Linked DNA regions of Homo sapiens. The protein of the gene in region 4 interacts with the protein of the main gene of each other region in a biochemical or structural test. Each region holds a gene or a part of one and is shown on either strand. Other genes may lie near its edges.

Region 1 (3,500 bases), on a different chromosome or scaffold from region 4:
TGGTCGGGGCTGCATGAGGGAATGAAGCAAGGGAAAGCGGAAAAGAATCAGGAGAGGCAAGGTGGGCTGGTGGCCTAAGGCCAGGCCCAGTGCCGTTCCTCTGGGAGGTGTTACTTTCAGCATCTGGAAAATGGGTAGGAGAGATCTGCTATAATTTGAATGTGTTCCCCAAAGTTCTTGTGTTAGAAACTTAGTCCCCAGTGCAAGTGTTTAGGGTGGGGCCAGTAAGGGATGTTAGGTCCTGAGGGCAGAGCCCTCATGAGTGTATGAGTTCATCAGTGCATTAATATTATCTCGGGAGTGGGTTAGCTATTGAGAGATTGGCTTTTTTGATGAAAACAAGTCTGGCCCCCTCACCCTCATGCTCTTTTGTCCTTCTGCCTCCTGTGCTAGGAAGATGCAGCACAAAGGTCCTTGCCAGATGCTGGCATCCTGTTCTTGGACTTCCAGTCTTCAGAATCGTGAGCCAAATAAACTTCTATTGATTATAAATTACCCAGTCTCAGGTACTCTGTTACAGCAACACAAAATAGACTAAGACAGGATCCCTGCTTGGTCCCCACCATGGGTGACTATGAGTATCAGAGGAGACAGTGTCTGTGGTGGGACCTAATAAACTACTAGAAGCTAAAATAACCCTCAGAGTCACCTGGTCCAGTTACCTGCCTCTAGGCAGGATGAGACTAAATCATCCGGGGAATGGCCCTGTGAGCCAAACATGGCCAAGCACAAAACTGCCTCCATGTTATTGCCAAGGGGGCTGAAGAGTGGAAAAAACACTGCAACCCTCCAGAGGTGACCTCATGGTCAGCAGGTGGCTCCATCAACAGTTCTCAAATGTAATTCCTGCATCTTGTTCAGTGCAGACTCTGGCCAGCAGCTCTGGGGGGCCCGAGCACCTGCATTTCTGACAAGCTCCCAGGGGGTGCCAGTGCTGCTGCTTGGGGGACCACGCTCTGAGTAGCCAGGGGCTCTGAGAGAGGTGGGTTAAACCCTGAGCTGGATGGCTTCCATGTTACCCAGCCAGAGAGCCAGGGGAGCCAGGAGCCTCTTCAGAGCCCAGTGGTTTTAACTCATCCAAGTATTTTCTGAGCTCCTGCCCTGTGCTAAGGACGGTGACTGTGTACCACCAGGGACGGGGGTGGCAGGGAGAAGGCTGAGAGCGTGAATAAGGAGGAGGCATCACAGATCACGCAGATGAGGTGGCGAGGCCAGAGGATAAACCAGATGAAGACGCTGACAGTCAGGGACAGCCCAAGTCCAAGAAGGCTGATGGAACAGGACAGGGCAGGACAGGGCATGAGTGTCCAGCCCAGCAGGGGCAAGAGCCCCAGAGGGCGGGAGCTCTGCTGCCGAGTGGGGGCCATCTCCCCACCCCAGCTTGGGGAGTTCTGCAGACAGGACCATCACCCCTTGATAAAAGCAGAAGAGATGCTTTACTAGCCCCCCATGTCCCTGTGCCTCAGCTCTCCTCCAGGAGAGGGCTGCCTAACACACAGTGCAGTATTAATACACACCTAAATGAAATTTCCAATCAAATGCACCCAGATGCACCAGTCATAGCCATTCATTAAATGCAAGCACTTTTGTAATGGCAAAAGCAACAAACAGACCCAGACTAGTGAGAAGATACTGGGCTTCCTTTTTTTTTTTTTTTTTTTTTTTTTGAGATGGAGTTTCACTCTTGTTGCCCAGGCTGGAGTGCAATGGTGCGATCTCGGCTCACTGCAACCTCTGCCTCTCAGGTTCAAGTGATTCTCCTGCCTCAGCCTCCCAAGTAGCTGGGATTACAGGCACCCGGCACCACGCCTGGCTAACTTTTTTGTATTTTTAGTAGAGACAGGGTTTCACCATGTTGGCCAGGCTGGTCTCAAACTCCTGACCTCAGGTGATCCACCTGCCCTTGGCCTCCCAAAGTGCTGGGATTACAGGCGTGAGCCACCGCGCTGGGCCAACACTGGGCTTCTTTAGGAGCAAACTGCATAATGGCCTAGGAAAGTGTGGGAGGCAGAAAATTCCAGATACCTTTCTCTAACTTCAATGACAACGGAAGCAGAAAAAGAGGGGTTTAGTAAGTGAAGGCTACGACAAAGCAGCCTGAAGACTGTGTGGTTTGTGTTGTATAGTTAGAAACCATAGTTACAACAAGCATTGCTTCTGTTCCTTAAACGCTAAAGAACAGTAGAGTTAATGGAGAAGAAAACATCTTCCAGGTGGAAAGACAGGCAGATGGTCCCCCACCAAGAAGGGCAGGGCAGACCAGGGAATGAACAAGAGCCTGGCGCTGGGGCTGGGGGCTGTCCTGCCTCCTTGGGCAACCAGTCCTGCTGGGGTGAGATGTGCACAGAAACAATACTGATTTTTTTTTTTGAGATGGAGTCTTGCTCTGTCTCCCAGGCTGGAGCGCAGTGGTGTGATCTTGGCTCACTGCAACCTCTGCCTCCCAGGTTTAAGTGATTCTCGTGCCTCAACCTCCCAAGTAGCTGGGATTACAGGCATGCACCACCACGCCCAGCTAATTTTTTTTTTGAGACAGAGTCTCGCTCTGTCGCCCAGGCTGGAGTACGGTGGCGTGATCTCAGCTCACTGCAGCCTCCGCCTCCCGGGTTCAAGTGATTCTCCTGCCTCAGCCTCCCGAGTAGCTGGGACTACAGGCGCCCACTGCCACACCCAGCTAATTTTTGTATTTTTAGTAGAGACGGGGTTTCACCATATTGGCCAGGCTGGTCTCGAATTCCTGACCTTGTGATCCACCTGCCTTGGCCTCCCAAACTGCTGGGATTATAGGCATGAGCCACCGCGCCCAGCTGCTAATTTTTGTATTTTTGGTAGAGACAGAGTTTGACCATGTTAGCCAGGCTGGTCGTGAACTCCTGACCTCAAGTGATTTGCCTGCCTCAGCCTCCCAAAGTGTTGGGATTACAGGCGTGAGCCACTGTGCCCAGCCATGGTACTGATTCTTAGTCTAAGAACCAGACTGAGGAAGACTTTGCCCAGGAAAAAGGGAGCGCATTTTAAGAGAGAAAGGTAATGAGTAACCTCCTTTCCGCCATCCTTTGTTGATTTGAGCACTTCATGTGTTGTATCTTGTACTCAGTTATTTTTCTTCATTAAGTTTCTGGAATGTGCTTGAAATATTTTTATCACCTTGACTTTCTATGGAGGACAGCTAAATTCCTTTTTTTATTTTGAGGTGGAGTCTTGCTCTGTCGCTCAGGTTGGAGTGCAGTGGTGCAATCTCGACTCACTGCAACCTCTGCCTCCCAGGTTCAAGTGATCCTCCAGCCTCAGCCTTCCGAGTAGCTGGGATTACAGGTGTGTGCCACCAAACCTGGCTATTTTTTGTATTTTTTAGTAGAGATGGGGTTTTGCCATGTTGGCCAGGCTGGTCTCGAACTCCTGATCTCAGGTGATCTGCCCCACCCTTGGCCTCCCAAAGTGCTGGGATTATAGGCGTGAGCCACCGTGCCGGACAGCTATATTTCTGTGATTTATATTTT
Region 2 (3,500 bases), on a different chromosome or scaffold from region 4:
CTGCTTTCTATTCTATTCTGCAATATTTCTACTTTTTTCAATTTCTCTGTCTCATACACATGCAGACAAACCCCACTACACTGATTTCATGGTACAGTAATGTTCCTATCTAGAATTTTAAAAAAAATTAGCTAAGAAGGATCTCATATATTAATATATGAAAGGGGCATCTGAGAGATTAGAGAATAATGAAAACTCACTTGAGAAGATAAGGGAAGAGATTAAGAACAATTTTAAAGTGAGTAGTTCTCAAGCCTTGGTGGGGATCAAAATCACCTGGGGAGCATGTTAAAATTATAGCTGTCCAACATTACACCAGACTAACTGCTAGTGAATCAGAAAAAGATCCTGGAGATCTGTAATTTTAATCCTTCCTATCAACTGATTCAGATTCAGATAATGATTTTCTTTATCTGCTTAATACTTTTTAGTAGCTTCCATATTAATATAAAATCCAAACTCTTCAATGACTTTGACTTATTTCCCCTTCCATGGTCTTCTCCTTGCTTATGTATCTGTTGAGCCTTCTCAGCTTCGCTCCTTATTTGCCAGAAAAACTAGCTTCCTTTCAACTCTGAAAAAGTCACAGACCTTTTTCAATTAAAAGCTAGCCAGAGCCTATTCCATTTCTTTGGACTGCTCTGGATGAGACTATACAAACACTCTTCCTCATTCTTCAGGTCTTAATTTAATTATCAGCCCCTAAATCTTAAACATTAATTTCTGGTAATTTAGGTAATTTAGACCAACCTTCTAGATGATAGCAATTATACAAATTAAGCAAATTATAAAAGGCACCTGAGTGAAGCCACTGGAGCGTTTACATAATAAAGAGTGGGTGGCTAAAAATTGAAAAATATGAAAATCAAAGAGATAAGCCCAACATCTGGGTCCACATTTCCACTTAGAGAAGTCTTATGATTCTAGAAAAAGCTAAGAGGGGGAGAAACTAAACAGTGTTTTGGACTGTGTCACAGGGCTGGGCAACAATAACTGGAGGATAGGGCCTGCCATGAATTCTTTATACTTTGGGTTGGGAACCCTGAGAGCTATACTGAGGAATAAAGGAGAAACAGTAGACCAATCTGGACAGAGTCTGAAGTCTGAATCATCTTTGAATCAGCTCAAATTTCAAAAATTTGGATTATGGTGATTCAAGACTGCTTGCCATAGCAAACTTAAATCTTTATTGGATTTTGTATAATGTTATCCAAGGACTGAAACCTTATAACTTTTCTTTGTGATGTCTAGCACTCAATAAAAACTAGGTAATGAAAGCACTCAATAAAAACCAGGTGAATGAAAAACAGGAGAAAAAACAAAAGAAACTTTGACTTATAAGGACACAAATCATGTATCCACCCACCGTCATACTTCTGTCACTCCTAAATACCCTTGTCCTGTTTCTCTGTAATCAACCCTTCATACCACCCTAGTGGTACATGCCTAGAAACCAGTGATCTGTGGTTTCCCTATAACTTCCTTACACATAGAAACAAAAGCACCTCCATACTAAATCTATGATCCTATATGCCTCTCCAATTGCTCTTTAGCTCTCTCTATCCCTTTCAAATAGGATACTAAGTTGCTTTTACTTATCCTTACTTCACAGTTTCCTTTGTTTCTTCATGCCTTGCCTCATGTCTTCTCTTATTTACTTGTCTATTCAAGGACAATTCTGTGTGTTCTGGGAAGAACACATCCTAGAGTTCCCAGGCACTACTACAGGTCTATAACGTAATGAAAGGGTTCTATAATCTCATGGAATGTTGGAGAGAAAAAAGGCAATTATTCATGCCAGGCGCAGTGGCTCATGCCTGTAATCCCAGCACTTTGGGAGGCCAAGGCAGGTGGATCATTTGAGGTCAGGAGTTCGAGACCAACCTGGCCAACATGGTGAAAACCCGTCTCTACTAAAAATACAAAAAATTAGCCAGGCATGGTGGCGGGTGCCTGTAATCCCAGCTACTCGGGAGGCTAAGGCAGGAGAATCGCTTGAACCTGGGAGGCGGAGGTTGCAGTGAGCCGAGATCATGCCACTGCACACCAGCCTGGGTGACAGTGCAAGACTTCATCTCAAAAAAAACAAAATACAAAATCAGCTGGGTGTGGTGGCAGGTGCCTGTAATCCCAATTACTTGGGAGGCTGAGGCAGGAGAATCACTTGAACCAGGGAGGCAGAGGTTACAGTGAGCCAAGATCTCACCACTAGCAAGCCAGCCTGGGCAACAGAGCGAGACTCTGGCTCATAAAAAAAGAAAAAGAAAAAAAAAACAATTATCCAATATAAGGGAAGGAGTCTATAGTGATAAAGAATATTTCAGTTAGAAATACAGATCAAGAAACAGAACACAAAAATTCTCAAATACTGTTGCTGAGAGTGCAAAACACTGTAACTATGGTAAAAAAGAGTGTGGTAGTTTCTTATAATGTTAAACATACATTTAGCATATGATACAGCAGTCACATTAGTATTTACACTTATGCTCACACAAACATCTATATGTCAAAGATTATAACAGCTTTATTCAGAAGTGCTCCAAACTGGAACTACCAGATGTCCCTCAAAAGGCGAATGAATCAGCAAACTTTGGCCATTCCAGGTACTGGAACATTACTCAGCAATAACAGAAACAAAGTATTGATTCATGCAACATTACTCAACAATAACAGAAACAAATTGATCCATGCAACAATATGGATAAATCTTAAATATATTTTGCTAAGTGAGAAAAGCCATATTTTGATTCTATTTATATGACATTCTTGACAAAGCAAAACTATATGGATGGAATTTGGTGAGTAGTTTTTCATAGGCTGGGAATGGTTAAAGGGGAGAGGTTGACAATGAAAGAAGAAAGCATGAGGGAATTTAGGGATGGTTAATAGAACTGTTGTATATTATGACTGTGACAGTAGGTGGATACAGTTGGTATCTGAATGGTATATCAGATTTCTTAACAAACACCAATAAATGGTGGGTAAAATATGACAAACATCCTTTTAAAAATATAGACAAGATTAAGGCTGGGCGCAGTGGCTCATGCCTGTAATACCAGCACTTTGGGAGGCTGAGGCGGGCGGATTACGAGGTCAGGAGATTGAGACCATCTTGGCTAACACTCGTGAAACCCCCTCTCTACTAAAAATACACACACACAAATTAGCTGGGCATGGTGGCACACGCCTGTAGTCCCAGCTACTCGGGAGGCTGAGGCAGGAGAATCACTTGAACCAGGAGGTGGAGGTTGCAGTGAGCCAAGATTGCACCACTGCACTCCAGCCTGGGTGACAGAGCGAGACTCCGCTCAAAAAAAAAAAAAAAAAAAAAAAGACAAGAGTAAAAGAAAATAAAGAAGTCAAGCAATGAAGTGAGAGCTGAGAGCCAGAAACTGGAGAGGTGAACATGCTCTGAAGTTAGAGCTACCCTTGGGACATTTGCTGGCTTCAATAGCCTAAGGTTGTATCTTAGTGTTCTGAAAAAATTCAAGAGACAAGGC
Region 3 (2,691 bases), on a different chromosome or scaffold from region 4:
CCATGCCTGGCCAATATATAAGTTTTATATATAGTCTTGTCACTTAGACAAATGAATTTAGAAGATTTGAACAAATCTAAATGTTTATCAATAGGGACTATTTAATTATAATAGTCATGTAATGCATAATGCATCATTAAAAATGAAGCAGCTGTGATCCTATATGCTTATAAGAACTTAATGCTCAAATTGGCTCCTAAAACGACAAAAACTATGTTAGAAATGAATCTGATATGATACCACTTATGTCATCTCTCTCTTATATATATATATAAATATATTTTATATATAAAAGATATGTGTGTATTTTATGTAATGTATTTCATACACATTACATATAATTATATATATGCAGAGAACATTTCTAATATCTGGAATAATAGACAAGAAACTAGTCAGTGTTGCAGAGGGGAGACTAGAACTAGGAGACTTCTTTTTTTTCACTTTTGAATTTTGTATCATGTGCATCTGTTACTATTCTAATAAAGGAGAAGGAATAATTTATTTCAAAAATACTTGTTTATTGCATGGTTCTCTCCAGATTTTATGTCTAGGCTTACTTTTATCATAAAGTACTTCAGCAAAGAAGAGAAACTGGCATTCAAACATGGCCGGCCAATCATTGCCAGGCTAATTGCACAAGAGCTTCTCCAAGCAAATATTTCTCACCTATTACAAACCCCACATTGATATAGGTGCCACAAATAATAAATGGGATAAAACAGAAGCCCCTGTGCAAGGGGAAGTCAGTGAGGAAGAGGGAAGGAAACAAGAGGCAAGGAGACCACGCACATCACTAGTGTTTCTCTTCATATGGCAATTTAACATTGCTGTTCTTTGTCTTTATGAAAAATGGGGTTAGGTCAGGTTCCTTGTCATCACAAGTCTCAGAAATCATCTAGAAAACATATATTTTACACACTAGTCTCACAACTAGACAACATATTCAGTACTTCAGTGGTAGAATCTTCAGCTTTTCACACCTTAGGCAGTTCTTCCACCATCTATTTCTGTTTCTTCATTCTCAGTTCCCAAGAAGGCATAGATCAGGTCCTAGATAGGTTAGCATTTCACATGTCTACTCCATTTCATTTGCAACAATGACAATGAAAACCCAGCATGCAATGTGGCTGAGGTGCTGGGAACCCCAAACAATGTGGGGGAAAAAGCAGAGGGCACTTCACACCCCAGACGGGACAGGTTTCCATTCCTTACTGAGGGTGGAAATACTAGAGTGGAGGAGAAGAAGCCAAAAAAATTACTCATGTGAAGAAAAAAGCCTTGTCAGCCGGGCACAATGGCTCACGCCTGTAATCCCAGCACTTTGGGATGGTGAGGTGGGCAGATCACTTGAGATCAGGAGTTTGAGAGCAGCCTGACCAACATGGCAAAACCCTGTCTCTACTAAAAATAGAAAAATTAGCCAGGCGCAGTGGCAGGTGCCTGTAATCCCAGCTACTCGGGAGGCTGACGCAGGAGAATCACTCAAACCCGGGAGGCAGAGGTTGCAGTGAGCCGAGATGGCGCCACTGCATTCCTGCCTGGGCAAAAGAGCAAGACTCTGTCTCAAAAAAAAAAAAAAAAAAAAAAAAAGAAGGAAAAAAGAAAAAGAAAAAAGCCTTGTCTACTGCTTATCATGATTCTCATTTATCTGTGGTTATGTTTTAAAAATTATTTCCTAAGGAAATTCTTTCAGCCCTTCCCCATTTTTGAGGGGCTGGGGTGCACATAGTGAAAGATTTGGGTCATCTCAAAGGACACAGGTTCAGAAGCATATCATTGTTGCAGTGATCCAAACCCAAGTATGTCATTTCTTCCTCAAAATCCCATTTGCTGCTCTTGCTTGGCAGTGAATATTGCTGATGAGGATGAGAGGCGTAGGTGAAGAGAAAGGGGTCTTCTTGAGGTGAATGGTATGCAGGAGACTGGACGTAGCTGTTAAAATCCACATGTACTTTCTCTTCATAAAGATTACCCGCTGGATTTGGCCATAATGGGGGACAGCCAGTTTTGGCTGCAGGTGGCTCCAATGGAAGCTGCTGGTAAAAGGGTTCTGAAGAGTTTTGGGAAGGAGAGAAGCTGCAAGGCCAGCTGGTCAGAGGAAAAGGATAATTGGAATAACAGTTGTCAGCAAGATGATTTCTCCCCAAAGCAGCATTTTTACTCCACGCTTGTAGATCGCCATGATCAGAGTAGACTCCGGAGGCAGAAGGAGGAAGCAGGTCTCCACTACTGTAGGTTCTGCTACTGGACAATTTGCGCTTTTCATAGAGCTTCATGGGGTCCACAGTGGAAGTCTGGTCAGTCAGATCTGTGATTCCTCCCAGACCATAACTCTTGGAGAAGGAAAAGCAATCATTTAGTGAGTTCTGCTGAGGAGTGTTAGCTATTAAATGTCCACTGTAACTACCAGGCAATTGGACGCCTTCCTGGAAAGACCAAGTTAAAGGTAAACTCCCCTGACTTTGTGTTTCACCTGGAAGAGACTGGAAAGGAAAGTGAAATGCTCGTGTTAATAAGTTAAGCAAATCAAAACCACTGCCATAGGCACCCATGAGTTACTCTGTACAAATAAGAGCTCCATCAGATTTTCCTCATTCCTTACACATTAATACTTGACGCACAAACACATGCAGCGGCTTGACCACAACCACGAAACACTTGAAAAAAGCAAAGGCTGCCTCTGTTTCC
Region 4 (3,500 bases):
CTGAGGTGGGCGGATCACTTACTTGAGGCCAGGAGTTTGAGACCAGCCTGGCTAACATGGCAAAACCCCATCTCTACTAAAAATACACCAGGCATAGTGGCACATGCCTGTAATCCTAGCTACTTGGAGGCTGAAGCATGAGAATCGCTTGAACCCAAGGCAGAGGATGGAGTGAGCCAAGATAACACCACTGCACTCCAGCCTAGGCAAGAGAGTGAGACCCTGTCTCTAATAATAATAATAATCTGCCTGAACATTTTTTTAAAAGCATAATTTTATTCATATTGCTCTTAACAGGTATCAGCTCAATAACTATAATATTATGGCAGAATTTTACTTCAGAACCATTTTTGATACCTTTGTTACTATAGAAGAGCTAGAATAGAAGCAATAAACGTAACAGAATTCAACGACTTACACTGCTATCAGCAATGAGAGAAAATGGAAACAAATGAACAGGGAAGGAGAAGGCAGACTAAGGAAAAGGAAAACACAGAATAGAGAGAAAGCTAATGTGAATGTAAAAGGAACATATGGGATGTTATAAGACCTAAGTGTATAGATTTTTCAACTTATTCCTAAATTAGCTACTAGTCCTGACCTTATATTGATCCCCTTAACAGACATAAAGTACTACAAATGAAATAGTGAAAAATGTCCTAACCACAATTCTCAGTAACACTAGCTAAATGAAATAGAATATTTACATTAATCAAATTATTTATCATTTAGAAGTAGTATAACATAGTACTAAGGAACAAGAACTCTTGGCTGGGCGCAGTGGCTCACCCCTGTAATCTCAGCACTGTGGGAGGCCAAGGCAGGCGGATCACGTGAGGTCAGGAGTTCAAGACCAGCCTGGCCAACATGGCGAAACCCCATCTCTACCGAAAATACAAAAATTAGCCGGACTTGGCGGCGCACGCATGTTTGTAATCCCAGCTACCTGGGAGGCTGAGACAGGGGGATTGCTTGAACCCAGGAGGCAGAGGTTGCAGTGAGCTGAGATCATACCACTACACTCCAGCCTGGGTGACAGAGCGAGACTCCGTCTCAAAAGAAAAAAGAGAAAAAAAAAAAAAGAACGAGAACTCTAGAAAACTCTAGAACCAGAGTGCCTAGGTTTAAATCCTGGCTCAGCCAGTTATAGTACATGACTCTAGGCGAGCTTCTTAACTTCTGTGTCTCAGTTTCCTTGTGATATAATAGGGATAACAACAGTAACCTACTTGGTAGGTACTATTAGGTACCCTTGTAAGATGGTTATAAGGATTAAATGAACCAATATATTTTAAATACTTAGAACAGGGTCTAGTACACAGTAAATGTTTGCTAGGGTATACTTAACTTTTTCAATACAATCAATGAGATAATACTCCTAAATGAGCATATAAACAATGTTCTAACCAAAAGATAATTATGTGGGCTGGGTGCGGTGGCTCATGCCTGTAATCCCAGCACTTTGAGAGGCTGAGGTGGGCCGATCACCTGAGGTCAGGGGTTTGAGACCAGCCTGGCCAACATGGCGAAACCCCGTCTCTACTAAAAATACGAAAATCAGCCGGACGTGGTGGCACATGCCTGTAATCCCAGCTACTTGGGAGGCTGAGGCAGGAGAATTGCTTGAACCCAGGAGACAGAGGTTGCAGTGAGCTGAGATTGTGCTACTGCACTCCAGCCTGGGTGACAGAGCAAGACTACGTTTCAAAAATAGCAATAATAATAATTTTGTTTGGTATATAGTATTACATAATTAGGATTAAAATTTCTCTTAAAATTATTATTAAGCACAAAGATACAAATACTGAAAATGTTAGGAAAACCCATTCTTTCACTACAGCTTAACCAATGAAAGTAGCTAAAAGGATTCAACAGCTAGTTAGTCTTACCCATTTCAAGTCTTTTCACATCACTGACTTTAGCAAAGATACAAAGTCCTATAAAAGAAGACACAAAACAGAAAAATTACATACTGAAACACCTACTTCACTTAATTTTAGAAGGTGCAGCCACTAGAAGTGACATTTGTTTGTGTTCTTAGTGGAGAAAAATCTAAGGTGGTAAAGAGTTGACTTGATGGGAAAAGAGTAAAAACTAAAACTAGCTTGAGGTACTTCCAAACATTTCTGCAACCTGTACTACATTAAACAGCAATTACAGACTACGCACAGAATCACAGAATATTAAAGCAAGAAGCAAATTGGGAGCGCCAACCCTTAAGAGACTGAGTGGTTTGCATAAAGTCATAATGTTAGCAACTACACCGAAATTATAACCTAGAAATTCTTCCCAATCCATTGTTCTATTACCTCATGCTAAATCACTTCATAAACAAGTGACAGACTTTGTGATGGTCCTATTAAGACTTTTCTTCCATGTCTTACTCAGTAGCCTGATACTCTAATGACAATCAAGAACTACTCTGGAGTAATACAAAGTACTTCCCCCAACATCATCAATCAAACTGCTACAAACCAAAGCCCCTTTGCCTATATAAAAATTACTGTCTCCTCTGATGTATCCACTTTTTCCACAAAATAAAGATGTTAAAAACCAAACTGCTGGCCGGGTGCAGTGGCTCACGCCTGTAATCCCAACACTTTGGGAGGCCGAGGAGGGCAGATCACTTGGCCAAGGAGGTCAAGACTTGGAGGCCAGCCTGGCCAACATGGTGAAAACCCATCTCTACTAAAAATACAACAATTAGCCAGGTGTGGTGATACGTGCCTGTAATCCCAGCTATTCAGGAGGCTGAGACAGAAGAATTGCTTGAACCCAGGAAGCAGAGGTTGCAGTAAGCCGAGATCATGCCACTGCACTCCAGCCTGGGCGACAGAGCAAGACTCTGTCTCAAAAAAAAAAAAAAAAAAAAAAACCAAACACAAAAACACAACCAAACTGCTTGGAACTAGGTTAATAAACATATCCTCGGCACATATGGTCTTGGTAGATTTCCAAGAGGAGGAGGCTACTAGGGATGGTAATAGTCACACCTATATATATTTATAATCTTATAACCATATTTTTAAAAAATATTAAGCACTTCATCAACCACATAGCAATACTAGGGCTTCAATGTATTCATGAGGCTGGATGATGATAATAGGCATTCTTTGTGGTCACAATAATGAAAGTCACACAAAGGAAGGCAGCTTAAAGTTTTCTTGGCGTACGAGACCACGCCACTGGCCACTGCACTCCAGCCTGGGCGACAGGGCGAGACTCCGTCTCAAAAAAAAAAAAAAAAAAAAGTTTTCTTGGCATAGCTATAGACTAAGCAGAGTAATTATCTGATTACCTAGTCTTGCCAGGAAGGATCCCTAAAGAATTTAAGCCTTAGATTTATGCTTCAAATATATTTCCAAATGCTCAACTTAAAAGGCTTCTTTACTAAAAATTCTTCAGGTTATTCTTTCCCCTTCTTTCTTCTTTAATAGAGTAGACTCCCTTGGGTTCCAGATTAAGGGGGAAAAAATCTTATCAACTAATATATTAGCAAC
Region 5 (3,500 bases), on a different chromosome or scaffold from region 4:
TCCCCAACCATGTGGAACTGTGAGTCAGTTAAACCTCTTTCCTTTATAAATTACCCAGTCTTGTGTAGTATCTTTATAGCAGTGTGAGAACGGACTAATACACCAATCGTGAACAGATTAGCTAAATCTGTTAGCTTCACTTTCTTTATATTAATAATAGGGTATTTTATCTTCCAACCATAGGGGTTAAGAGAATAAAATGAGATAAATCTTCAAGTATTTACTACAATTTTTGGAAGTATGCATTAAATGATATATAAAATTTAATGACAAGTTTAATGTTAAGTTCACTGAATCAAAGAATGTCCTGGAAATCTCTTAAATAAAACATGTTCAAAGCCAACCTTGTTCCTCCTATTAGACTCCCTAATATTAAACGAAAAACTAGTAAGTTTGGCAGCTTTGACTCTTCCATTTCCTTCTTCCCACTCACCCAACAGCTATGACATGCCGATTTCATTTCCTTCACCATCATACCTACCGTACTACATGAGTTGAGGTCCTCACTCTCCGTCCCTTGACTTTCCCCTCTAAGGTTCTTGACTTCAATCTACTTCTTTCCTGTTCATCCTCTAGAATGCTATTATTATTACCAGAATTATTTTCTGAAAACAAACCTCATTATGCCAAACCTAATCAAACTTACACTGGTGCAAACTCATTTGAATGTCATCTAAGTTTCTTCATCATCTGACATCGACAAGTATTGTCAGCTTCATCACTTCCACCTTACCCCACTTCCTCATAACCTGGATAGCCACAGTGAATTTATCTTGATTTTCTGTTGTGTACTGGAATATTCTCCCTTCTCTATCATGAATAAAACTTCTATTTATCCATCAAGATCCAGACGAGGTTTACCTTGTCTCTTAAGGTTCTTCCCAAATATTTCAGGCATATCATTGTGCATATTTCTCATAATGGCACTTATTCCAGAACAAACAATTATGTCTCCTACCAGACTGAGTTTTCTGAGGACAGGAAGTACATCTTACTCATGTTTGTATCCCTCAGAACCTGACACTTTGTAAATATACAACGTGAAAAAATCTGAAAGGAACACTAAAGTAATCTTGACGAGGTTTCATTTCAATTCCTATGTAAAACAAATAACCAAATGTGGCTGGGTTACTACAAAAAATGATGAGAAACATTATACCATTTTTTGAAGGTTTCAGAGGAACCATCAGGTTTTGGTTCTATGTATGTTTAAAGTCAGCTATACTATTCTTGTACCTGAAAATTCAATTTTTTAAGTTAAACAAATTACTCTAATACATTCTATGTATATTCTTGTTTTTTTGAGACAGAGTCTTGCTCTGTCACCTGGTTGCCAGGATGGAATGCAGTGGCGCGATCTTGGCTCAAGGCAACCTCCACTTCCCAGGTTCATGCGATTCCCCTGCCTCAGCCTCCTGAGTAGTTGAGACTACAGGCGCACACCACCATATCCAGCTAATTTTTGTGTTTGTGTATTTTAGTCGAGATGGGGTTTCACCACGTTGGCCAGGATGGTCTCGATCTCCTGACTTTGTGATCCACCAGCCTCAGCCTTCCAAAGTGCTAGGATTACAGGCATGAGCTGCTGCGCCAGCCTGCATATTCTTATAGACTTACATAAAACATTTTTTAAGGCTTATCTATGCATCCCTTCCTCTCCCACCAAAAAAAGGAGTGGTAGTGTGATGACGAAATCTAAATACAGAAATGTAAACAAACTGATGCTATTTTAAGAACATTTCTCATTTATCACCTATAGTACTTGGGATTCATAAAGAGAAAAGAATAAAGTACTGAGTGTACTTTTCCATCTGAAGGGACTAGAACCAGTTTATAGACATCATCATGTTCTTATCCCCTCAGAGTTTATGGAGTCAATCACTTATATATGAGTCTGGAAAACTTGCCCAATGTCAGACAAAATGATAAGATCATACTATATGCATTCAACTTACTAGCAAACATTCTCTTCTATAATGTGATATCAATTCTTCATCATGTCCTCTGTATAAGCCTTTAGACAAGAGTTCTTTGTTATTCTGATAAGCACAGATGAGGAACAGCAAGGAATCTATATAACTTGAAAATTAAAAAGAAACATATAACATTAGTATTTCACCTTTGTAGAAACAAAGTCAGCTATAATTATGAAACATTTTAAGTATATGCTTAAGTTTTGATAATCTACATTATAATAAAAAATATCATCTGACGCAGTGTATGCTTGAGAGCGCCTTTTTAGCAACAGCAACATCTGAAACCCAGAGATAGTTATCTTAAAAGTAAAAAAAGAAGAGCTATAAATTAAGAAAAAATCTGGGAAAAGAGGCAATAACTGATAAAGTCAGATAGTTCTGTTTTCCTTGGTATTTATTTTCCTGATGTCTTCCATTTAAACTCAAAATTGGAGCTAATGTGAAAGCCAACAATCTAATTGTTTAACGCAATGTCACATTTATATGAAGTAAATGATCACAAACATCATTTGGTTTGTTCAATGACAACTTAGACAGGTTCTTTTCTATGTGCAGACAGTTTTAGTTACTGAGAAAAATGTAAAAAAAAAATAGAAATAAGAATATCTAAAGGAAATAGAGGAAGTGGACAATGAAAGATTTCTTCTAAATCTGGGAAACCTAGTGGAATAAAGCAAAAACAAAAAGCCTGCAAACATAAAAAAGCTGATAGAGGCCGGGTGCGGCGGCTCACACCTGTAATCCCAGCACTTTGGGAGGCTGAGGCAGACGGACCACCTGACGTAGGGAGTTCGAGACCAGCCTGACCAACATGGAGAAACCCCGCCTCTACTAAAAATACAAGATTAGCCGGGCATGGTGACACATGCCTGTAGTCCCAGCTACTCGGCAGGCTGAGGTAGCAGAATCCCGGGAGGTGGAGGGTGAGGTGAGCTGAGATCACGCCACTGCACTCCAGCCTGGGCAACAAGAGCAAAACTCCGTCTCAAAAAAAAAAGAAGTGATAGAATTAGGCATATGTGTTATATTAATGTAAGTCTAGATATTATGAAATTCAAATTAGGTTTTAAAAAGGGAAGAAAAGGGGCCAGGCACAGTCGCTCATGCCTGTAATCCCAATACTTTGGGAGGTGGTGGTGACAGGATCAGCTGAGGCCAGAAGTTCAAGACCTGCCTGGCCAACATAGTTGACACCCCCATCTCTACAAAAACATTAAAAAAAAAAAAATTAGCTGGGCATCGTGGTACATGCCTGTAGTACCAGCTACTCAGGAGGCTGAGGAGGAAGGACTTCTTGAGCTGAGAAGGTAAGAGGTTGTAGTGAGCCATGATCATACCACTGCATTCCAGCCTGCGCAACAGAGCAAGACCCCAACTCAAAAATACAAAACAAAACAAAAATGGAAGAAAAAAATATTTAATAAAGAATTACTTTTACCTCAAAACTATCCTTCTAACATGTCAAAATAAAAACTATATCTAGCCAAGTATTTGTATAACTGAAATAAAAAATATTATTTTAAA
Region 6 (3,500 bases), on a different chromosome or scaffold from region 4:
AAAAAATAATTTAAAAAAGAATTCATGGTGCTTCATTTAAAAAGAATACTTGGTGTTTTCACGCAGATATGGATTCTCTCACATTAAGTTACCAGCAAATGGTGAGCTGCCTTTTAAACACTACTTTATAACAAACACAGGAGCAATTGAGAGAATCTCAATAGTAACACAGAGTAATACGTAACCAGTTTTGCAAAAATAACAATTGCCCATTAAGTATAATATGACATTAAAACAAAACTGAAACTCTGTAAGTTTAAATGTCCAATAAACAAAAGGGAGATTGTGTAAGCCGCTTTTAAAATAAAATAGGCAAGTCTGAGTTTATAAACAAACAAAAAGTAATTTTTCTTTTTTTGTCATCAGATTTCAACTCCTTCTATCAGCATTTTTCCTGACCAGCAATCACAATAACACAAAATGAAATAAAGAGGGGCTTCACTTGTTTTTAAAAGCATTTATAGAAATCAAGTCAGAGAGACAAAATATTTTTCAGAGGGTAACTTCAGAACAATCTCTCTTCCTTGGTAACTGCAGAAGATGGGCATCTGAACTCTTCCAAGTACCAAAATTACTGTCACAAAAATAATGAATTTAAAAATAGGGCAAACTTTGGGAAGACTACAACAATGCAGTCAACACTGAGACAGGTTCCCCCAGAGAAAAACCTTCTGCTTCAGTGGGCCCCTGCAGAACAAGTTGCTGGCTAAGAAATTTCAAGAGGGTAAAGGAGGATCTCTCCATAGCCCAATATTAAGAACGCAGGGCCAGGAGAAGGTAGCCATGATTCCTCCTCCCTCATGCTCACCAACTATAAGTAGGAATACTGGCTGATCTTGGTAGGACTCAGCGGGTATCCAGTGTAAATTGTTGAGCCTCGGGAAGACCCAATGTAGGATTGGGTGGCAAACTGGTGTTGGTACTGAGCAGGGGCCACGCTGGCAGAAGTGAGGAGGCTGGGCCCAACACTGACAGGGACCTGGTGCACCAAAGTGCTAGGGTGAGTGGTATAGGCTGCAGCATGCCTTGAGGAACCCTGTGGGGAGAAAAGATGAGCAATGGAGCTGGTTGAGCCCAGTGCAGCAGCAGAAGTCGGGGCAGCATACGTATACAGATGAGCCTGGCTTGGCAGGTGAGCAGGGGCCGGGGCAAGGTGTGGGTGCCCTGTCGAGTGTAGCGGGCTGCCATGCTGGAAGGTGTAGGGGGCTTGGGAGAGAGGGGCCACAAACGCCTGCTGCCTGCGGGGGGCTGGGTTGCTGCTTCTCTCCTGTGAGGTTGGAGCCGCCGATGACTGCTGGTTCTGGAAGAAAGAAGGAAGAAGTGAGGAATCCTGAGGTCACTCCAGCTCAGGGCACCAAAGGCCAAGTTAAGAGCTCAGGTTCTGACTTGTACTGTTTTCGAATGGGTATAGCACATAATCTCCCACACTGGCATTGAATGCTGTCAGAAATCAGCCACCCCTCCTTCTGCCTCTTAGCAAGATAGATCCTAATCTGGCTCAGGTAACAGCATTTTGCTTGTAAGTATGACAGGAAGAGGGAGAATCAAGAGATCATAGGGTTCCCCACTCCTGCAAGTTAATAACTGGTGACTCAACTCACCCTATTCTGGCGTCAGTAAATTTGAATTTTTCCTAGCCTTTATTTCTTACCATTGCTTTCTTTTGTTTTCGTCCTCTAAGTTCTTCATACCCCTCTTGAAATGTGGAAACTAAAATACATGCACTAACTCAAACTTACATTTTCACTTGCATGTGCTCTCTCTCACATACCCTCATACTGACACTTTCTCACTACTGGTGGACATCATACAAGCACTCGAATTTTAGCTTCTAAGAGTGAACACAAATAGAATAAAGTAATGAGAGAAGCAGAAGGGTAGGTTGGGGCTGGGGGTGTTCGGAGAGTGGGGAAGTCCCAAATCGCAGACTCCAGCAACAAGTAGGACCTAGAACCAGTTGAATTTGGTGGCCAATGAGCTTTTCACAATCTCTTGACTCAAGTAAACAATGTAAGGATCAGCTTACTTATGGCCTGGGGGATAAAGAGAATCTGGTCTCAAAGCATATGCCTATCACAGACATGGTTAAAGCACCCCAGGCTCTTTCTAAATCCCAGACGTTTCTCTAACCTTCCAGGGTAGACTTAGGGAGGTCTGATGGAAAACCTAGAATGTACATCCTGAACACACTTACAGAGTGAATGAAGAGACACAGCATATGCGGTACGACGTAAGCCATAGAACACAAAATTGTTTGACACAAAAGGGGCTTCATTTGGCTTTATTCAGCATCCAGCCAGAAGCAGGGTTCTCCAGAAAGTAACAACAGTGCAGGGCCCAAACAGAAGGCAGTAGCCCATAGCACTTACCTGGCTAAGATTGAGTGGTTGTGCTGCACTGGTCCCCCCGCGTTGAGCTCGATACCCTGTGGGGGTGATACAGCATCCAGATGACTGCCCACTCACTGAAGCGACTGGCTTAGTCTTATTGCTCAGGAGACCTAAAAAAGCACCAGGCTTAATAGTTATGAGTAGACATCACTGAGCTAACCTCAGATGGCATCATATTAATTAGTCCACATCTGTATGTAGTTTGCAAGCATTAAGGTCTCAATTCTATTTACATCAGAAGAAAATAACCTGTTATCACCCATTTCTTTTCTGTCTTGGCACAAATCTCCACATAGGATCCTCAAAATGTTCACTTAAATAAATATTATAAATATTTTAACTATAATCTCTTGTTATATACAAGGAACGACTGGAAATACAAATATGCTAAGACACCATCCCTCTCTCCAAGAGTTTATAGTTTTATGTAGGAAGGGATTAAACAAGCACAGAAATGATAATGTGAAGCTGAGAAAGCTATTGGTAATTCTTAGGATATTAAAGTGGCAAGAGGGTTTAAAAGAAGGCAAAATTCTATCTTGTTGGACACTTACTGTCTTCAAATTCTTAGAAATTACAGGACAGCTGAATGTGAAATTTTGCTTGCTTCTGTGTTCCCATTAGGAAAACCAGAGCATTTATTCAGTGTCTCATGTGATAGCCTATATTCTCTGGACCCAAGAGCACACGGAGGTACTAATAATTCTATTCAGTAGCCTGGCATCAGGAAGCTCTCTCTCTTGTCTGCAATGGGACAACTGTCTACTTCTGAAAAGAATCACACAGAGGCATAACACAATACCCTCAAATTACAACCCTGTTTATGTCTATGGCAGTAAGATAATACATAATAAAACATAATTTATACAAGTATGGCCCAGGTTTATGTTGACACCTAAACTTCACCAACCCCTTCCTTGGTATGAAGTTGTCACTGAAAAGCAGCTGCCTTAACAAGACTACATTGCCTGGGCTCACTTGCATCTAGGTGGGGCCATGTGAGAAGCATTCACTATTTCCACTTATTTCCAGCCTAAAGAGGTTAAGACATGTGTGTGCCTCCTTCACACTTTCTTTCTCCTTCTGACTGGATGCTCAGGAATCAAACAC
Region 7 (3,457 bases), on a different chromosome or scaffold from region 4:
GCAACTAGGAGCGGAAGCAGGACTAGAACCAAGGCTGCCTGCGTCCTAGTTCCCAAGCTGTGTGTGGTCCACTTCACCACACTGCCTCCCAAGACCACTGGGCTCGTGGCCAGGCATGAATAATGTCTCCGAAAACCTGACAAGTGCTGTGGAACTTTAATTATATGAGACTTAAATGGGCGTTGCATGAAAAGAAAAAAAGAAAAAAAAAAGGTCAGATAGGATTGGGGGGATACTGGTTTAAACAGGTTTATCTACTGCAGGACATGTCAGAGCCTTTAATGTGCCAAAGTCTATTGAAAATCTCTGAGAGAAATATACAGCATTTCTGAAAGAACCGGACCACAGATGCTAACACCCATCCCCATCCTTTCTTTTTTAATGGCTAAGTTCTGGATAGCACACTCGGAAAAGACAGCCCTAAAGAAGATAAGGGCACTGTGTGTGTGTGTGTGTGTGAGAGAGAGAGAGAGTGTGAGGAGGGAGGAAGTGATACATGCTCTTTCTACTGCATTTTATTTCCATAGTGAGTCCACACACGCACAAATTAGACCTTGTTCCTTCGTCACATCTCCTGAGGGCGAAGGTACCCTCATGTCAAATGGCAGTACTGGGCATTTCAGGGGCTCGGTTAGCCAAAGGGGAGGTTCCGGGAGGCTTGAACCCAGGCCCTTCCCTCAGTGGTACCCTGGAAGGGTCACTGCCCCTGCCAGCCCAAGGGTCATTTTCCTCCATTGGTGCCCATTTTTGTGCTCAGGCAACAGGAGTCACTTAAACATGATCTTCCAAGGAACGTGTACGGTTCCAGCAAACAATAGAATCCGAAGAAGAAAAAGACTCTGTTCTTCACTTACATTTGGCCAAGTGAAGAGACAACCAACTCTCCCTGTGTCTGTTTTTCAGGGCAGTGAAGTATATTTTTGGAGCTGGTCAGGACACAAACCAATCTTACAGGCACGAACAAAATGCAGCATTCCCCAAATGCAGCCAAAACCCTTTACTGGAGCCACCTTCCTAACGCCAGTGGTCACTGGTCACTTTCCTGAGTGCGCGTGGAGAGGTTGGCCCCGGGTGGGAACCGCGTGCTGGTTTATGTTGTTACAGTACAAGTGAACGCAAAGACTTGCAGTAGCTGCCTCTTGGCAAATGATCTTCCCCCACGCCCAGGCATGGGGGCATCATGGTGGGGCTGGGGGAGAGCGAAGGGCCATTGTGCTTCTGTGGCTGGGCCGTCTTTTCTTTCTGGCTTCCCTACACCGTGTGCTCCATCATGGGGTATGGAGCAGTCCCTAAAGAGAAAGAGCTCGCCAGCAGCCCCTGTGAAGAAGTCCCCCGGGGACCAGTCTGGCCCACCACCCCCTGCCCTGCCACCGCTGTTGCCCCACCTGGCTTTAGACCTCCTTCCGCAGCACCACCTTGATGCTGCTGCAGACCTGGCCCAGGGCCGCGAAGAGTGGGTTGCAGAAGGTGCGGATGCAGAGTGAGTAGATGTGGCTGATGCACTGGATCTCGATCAGGTAGCTCTTAATGCATGGCACCACCGCCCAGATGTGGCAGAAGGAGATGCAGGCGAACAGGAAGCCCCAGAGCAGGGCCAGTGGGACGCCCAGCAGCGTGGACAACAGACGGTAGCACCAGTACTTGGAGACAGTGAAGGTGGTGTAGCTCACCTTCCACACGCCGTCAAAGCTGTAGGTGCCCACAGGCTCTGCGATCACGTCTTCAAAATCCACCTGCAGGGGTGGCAAGGGGAAGCCTCAACTCACAGAAGCCACCCGCTTCTCAAGCTTTTGGGTGTGTGCGTGCATGTGTCAGAATCCCCTAGAGGTCAGGTTAACCTTGGTGGCTGGACCCTACCTGTATTAGGCTATTCTTGCATTGCTTTAAAGACATACCTGAGGCTGGGTAATTGATAAAGAAAGGAGGTTTAATTGGCCCATGGGTCTGTGATCTGTGCAGGAATCATGGTGCTGGCATCTGCTTGGCTTCAGGTGAGGCCGCAGGGAGCTTTCAACCATGGCTAGAGAAGGGAGAGCAGGCGTCTCCCCTGGTGAGAGTGGGAGCAAGAGAGAGAGCTGGGCAGGGGGTGGAGTGCCACACTTTACAACAACCAGATCTTATGAGAACTCTCCCACTATTGTGAGGACAGCACTAAGCCACGAGGGATCTGCCTCTGTGATCCGATCACCTCCCACCCGGCCCCACCTCCAATATTGGAGATTATGTTTCACCATGAGGTTTAGAGGGGACACAGATCCAGACCATATCATCGCCCCAGGGATTCCGACTCCCCAAGTCTGGAGTGGGGCCTAAGGCTCTGTATTTCTAACAAGCTCCCTGTTGAGCCCAAGCTGCTGCTGTTCCTAGGCACCGCTGACCAACACAACACGCTCGTTCAACCCCCTCAAGGTGAGCGACTTGCTTAAAGCCAACAGTGACTTAGTGGCAGTGCTATAGTCGCAGCTCTCAAATTCTATTGTTTTATGATCTGAAGGGTGTTGGACGGTCGTATGCATCCTACAGCAATTTACTGAGCACCTGTGGATTGGATGGTGAACAGGCAGAGGTTCCTCACATCGCTTACCTAAGCTCTCTCGAGCCCTGCTATGCATGAAGCACCTTCCTAGCTGCCTACACATGGGTGATGTCACTTAGCATCACTAAGCCTCAGCTGTCTTGTCTGTAAGATGGAGTCAATGAACGTCTTCCAGTGGTATCATGAGGATGAAAGGATGGGAGGCTGTAAAATCCACTGGTCCACAGTGAAACCCTGTCTCTACTAAAAATACAAAAAAAAAAAAAAAAAAAAAAAATTAGCCGGGTATGGCAGCGGGTGTCTGTAGTCCCAGCTACTTGGGAGGCTGAGGAAGGAGAACGGCATAAACCCGGGAGGCGGGGCTTGCAGTGAGCCGAGATTGTGCCACTGCACTCCAGCCTGGGTGACAGAGCGAGACTCCATCTCAAAAAAAAAAAAAAAAAAAAATTCCACTGGTCAATTAAACAGCAGTGAACCAAATTAGCTGCTTCATGACTGGTCTCCCCATGGTTGTTACCAGTACAGCCCGCCAAGTGGGAGGTTGCAGAGCTGTTTGCTAATGCCTGAAACTGTTCTGAGATGTTTTCTTTCTAGCAGTGCTCCTGGGCCATTCAAATTAAAAGGGGGTGGATGCAGGTACAGACTAATCAGATCAACAGGAGGGGCCTGTGTGGTGGCCTGCAGGGCTGAGGCTCCAACTTCAATCTTCCTGGTTAGTTAGTCCCTTTCCCGCCTTGGTTATGGGGAGGGGATCCTCTCCTCTATTGCATCACCAATATTAAAATTACTTTCATTATAAAAAAAATGGCCATATCACAGAGAATTAACAGAATAGAAAAAAGAAAAGAGTCTTGGGTTTGTACTTCTCTATTACTAAAGATATGATTGTTTTGGTGCATTTCTTTCCAGTACAATATTTTC

Evidence for each region.
Region 1: of the proteins of SENP1 (region 4) and HIPK2, one has a biochemical effect on the other in vitro, tested with the Homo sapiens proteins (one study listed by BioGRID).
Region 2: the proteins of SENP1 (region 4) and ZNF420 form a complex in vitro, tested with the Homo sapiens proteins (one study listed by BioGRID).
Region 3: the proteins of SENP1 (region 4) and GCM1 form a complex in vitro, tested with the Homo sapiens proteins (one study listed by BioGRID).
Region 5: of the proteins of SENP1 (region 4) and USP25, one has a biochemical effect on the other in vitro, tested with the Homo sapiens proteins (one study listed by BioGRID).
Region 6: of the proteins of SENP1 (region 4) and HIPK1, one has a biochemical effect on the other in vitro, tested with the Homo sapiens proteins (one study listed by BioGRID).
Region 7: of the proteins of SENP1 (region 4) and CAV3, one has a biochemical effect on the other in vitro, tested with the Homo sapiens proteins (one study listed by BioGRID).

Annotation. Positions count from the first base shown.
Region 1 is NC_000007.14:139,575,499-139,578,998, forward strand, and holds part of HIPK2 (homeodomain-interacting protein kinase 2), read right to left. Parts: intron 1-3,500.
Region 2 is NC_000019.10:37,123,433-37,126,932, reverse strand, and holds part of ZNF420 (zinc finger protein 420), read right to left. Parts: intron 1-3,500. UniProt on the Homo sapiens protein: May be involved in transcriptional regulation.
Region 3 is NC_000006.12:53,126,461-53,129,151, forward strand, and holds the end of GCM1 (chorion-specific transcription factor GCMa), read right to left. Parts: intron 2,487-2,691; coding exon 1,746-2,486; 3' UTR 501-1,745; downstream 1-500. UniProt on the Homo sapiens protein: Transcription factor involved in the control of expression of placental growth factor (PGF) and other placenta-specific genes. Binds to the trophoblast-specific element 2 (TSE2) of the aromatase gene enhancer. Binds to the SYDE1 promoter.
Region 4 is NC_000012.12:48,099,580-48,103,079, forward strand, and holds part of SENP1 (sentrin-specific protease 1), read right to left. Parts: intron 1,938-3,500; coding exon of another isoform or gene 1,894-1,937; coding exon 1,890-1,893; intron 1-1,889. UniProt on the Homo sapiens protein: Protease that catalyzes two essential functions in the SUMO pathway.
Region 5 is NC_000021.9:15,872,982-15,876,481, reverse strand, and holds part of USP25 (ubiquitin carboxyl-terminal hydrolase 25), read right to left. Parts: intron 2,080-3,500; coding exon 1,956-2,079; intron 1-1,955. UniProt on the Homo sapiens protein: Deubiquitinating enzyme that hydrolyzes ubiquitin moieties conjugated to substrates and thus, functions in various biological processes including inflammation and immune response.
Region 6 is NC_000001.11:113,970,824-113,974,323, reverse strand, and holds part of HIPK1 (homeodomain-interacting protein kinase 1), read right to left. Parts: intron 2,501-3,500; coding exon 2,370-2,500; coding exon of another isoform or gene 2,286-2,369; exon of another isoform or gene 2,266-2,285; intron 1,301-2,265; coding exon 812-1,300; 3' UTR 1-811.
Region 7 is NC_000003.12:8,743,802-8,747,258, reverse strand, and holds the end of CAV3 (caveolin-3), read right to left. Parts: intron 1,734-3,457; coding exon 1,392-1,733; 3' UTR 501-1,391; downstream 1-500. UniProt on the Homo sapiens protein: May act as a scaffolding protein within caveolar membranes. Interacts directly with G-protein alpha subunits and can functionally regulate their activity. May also regulate voltage-gated potassium channels.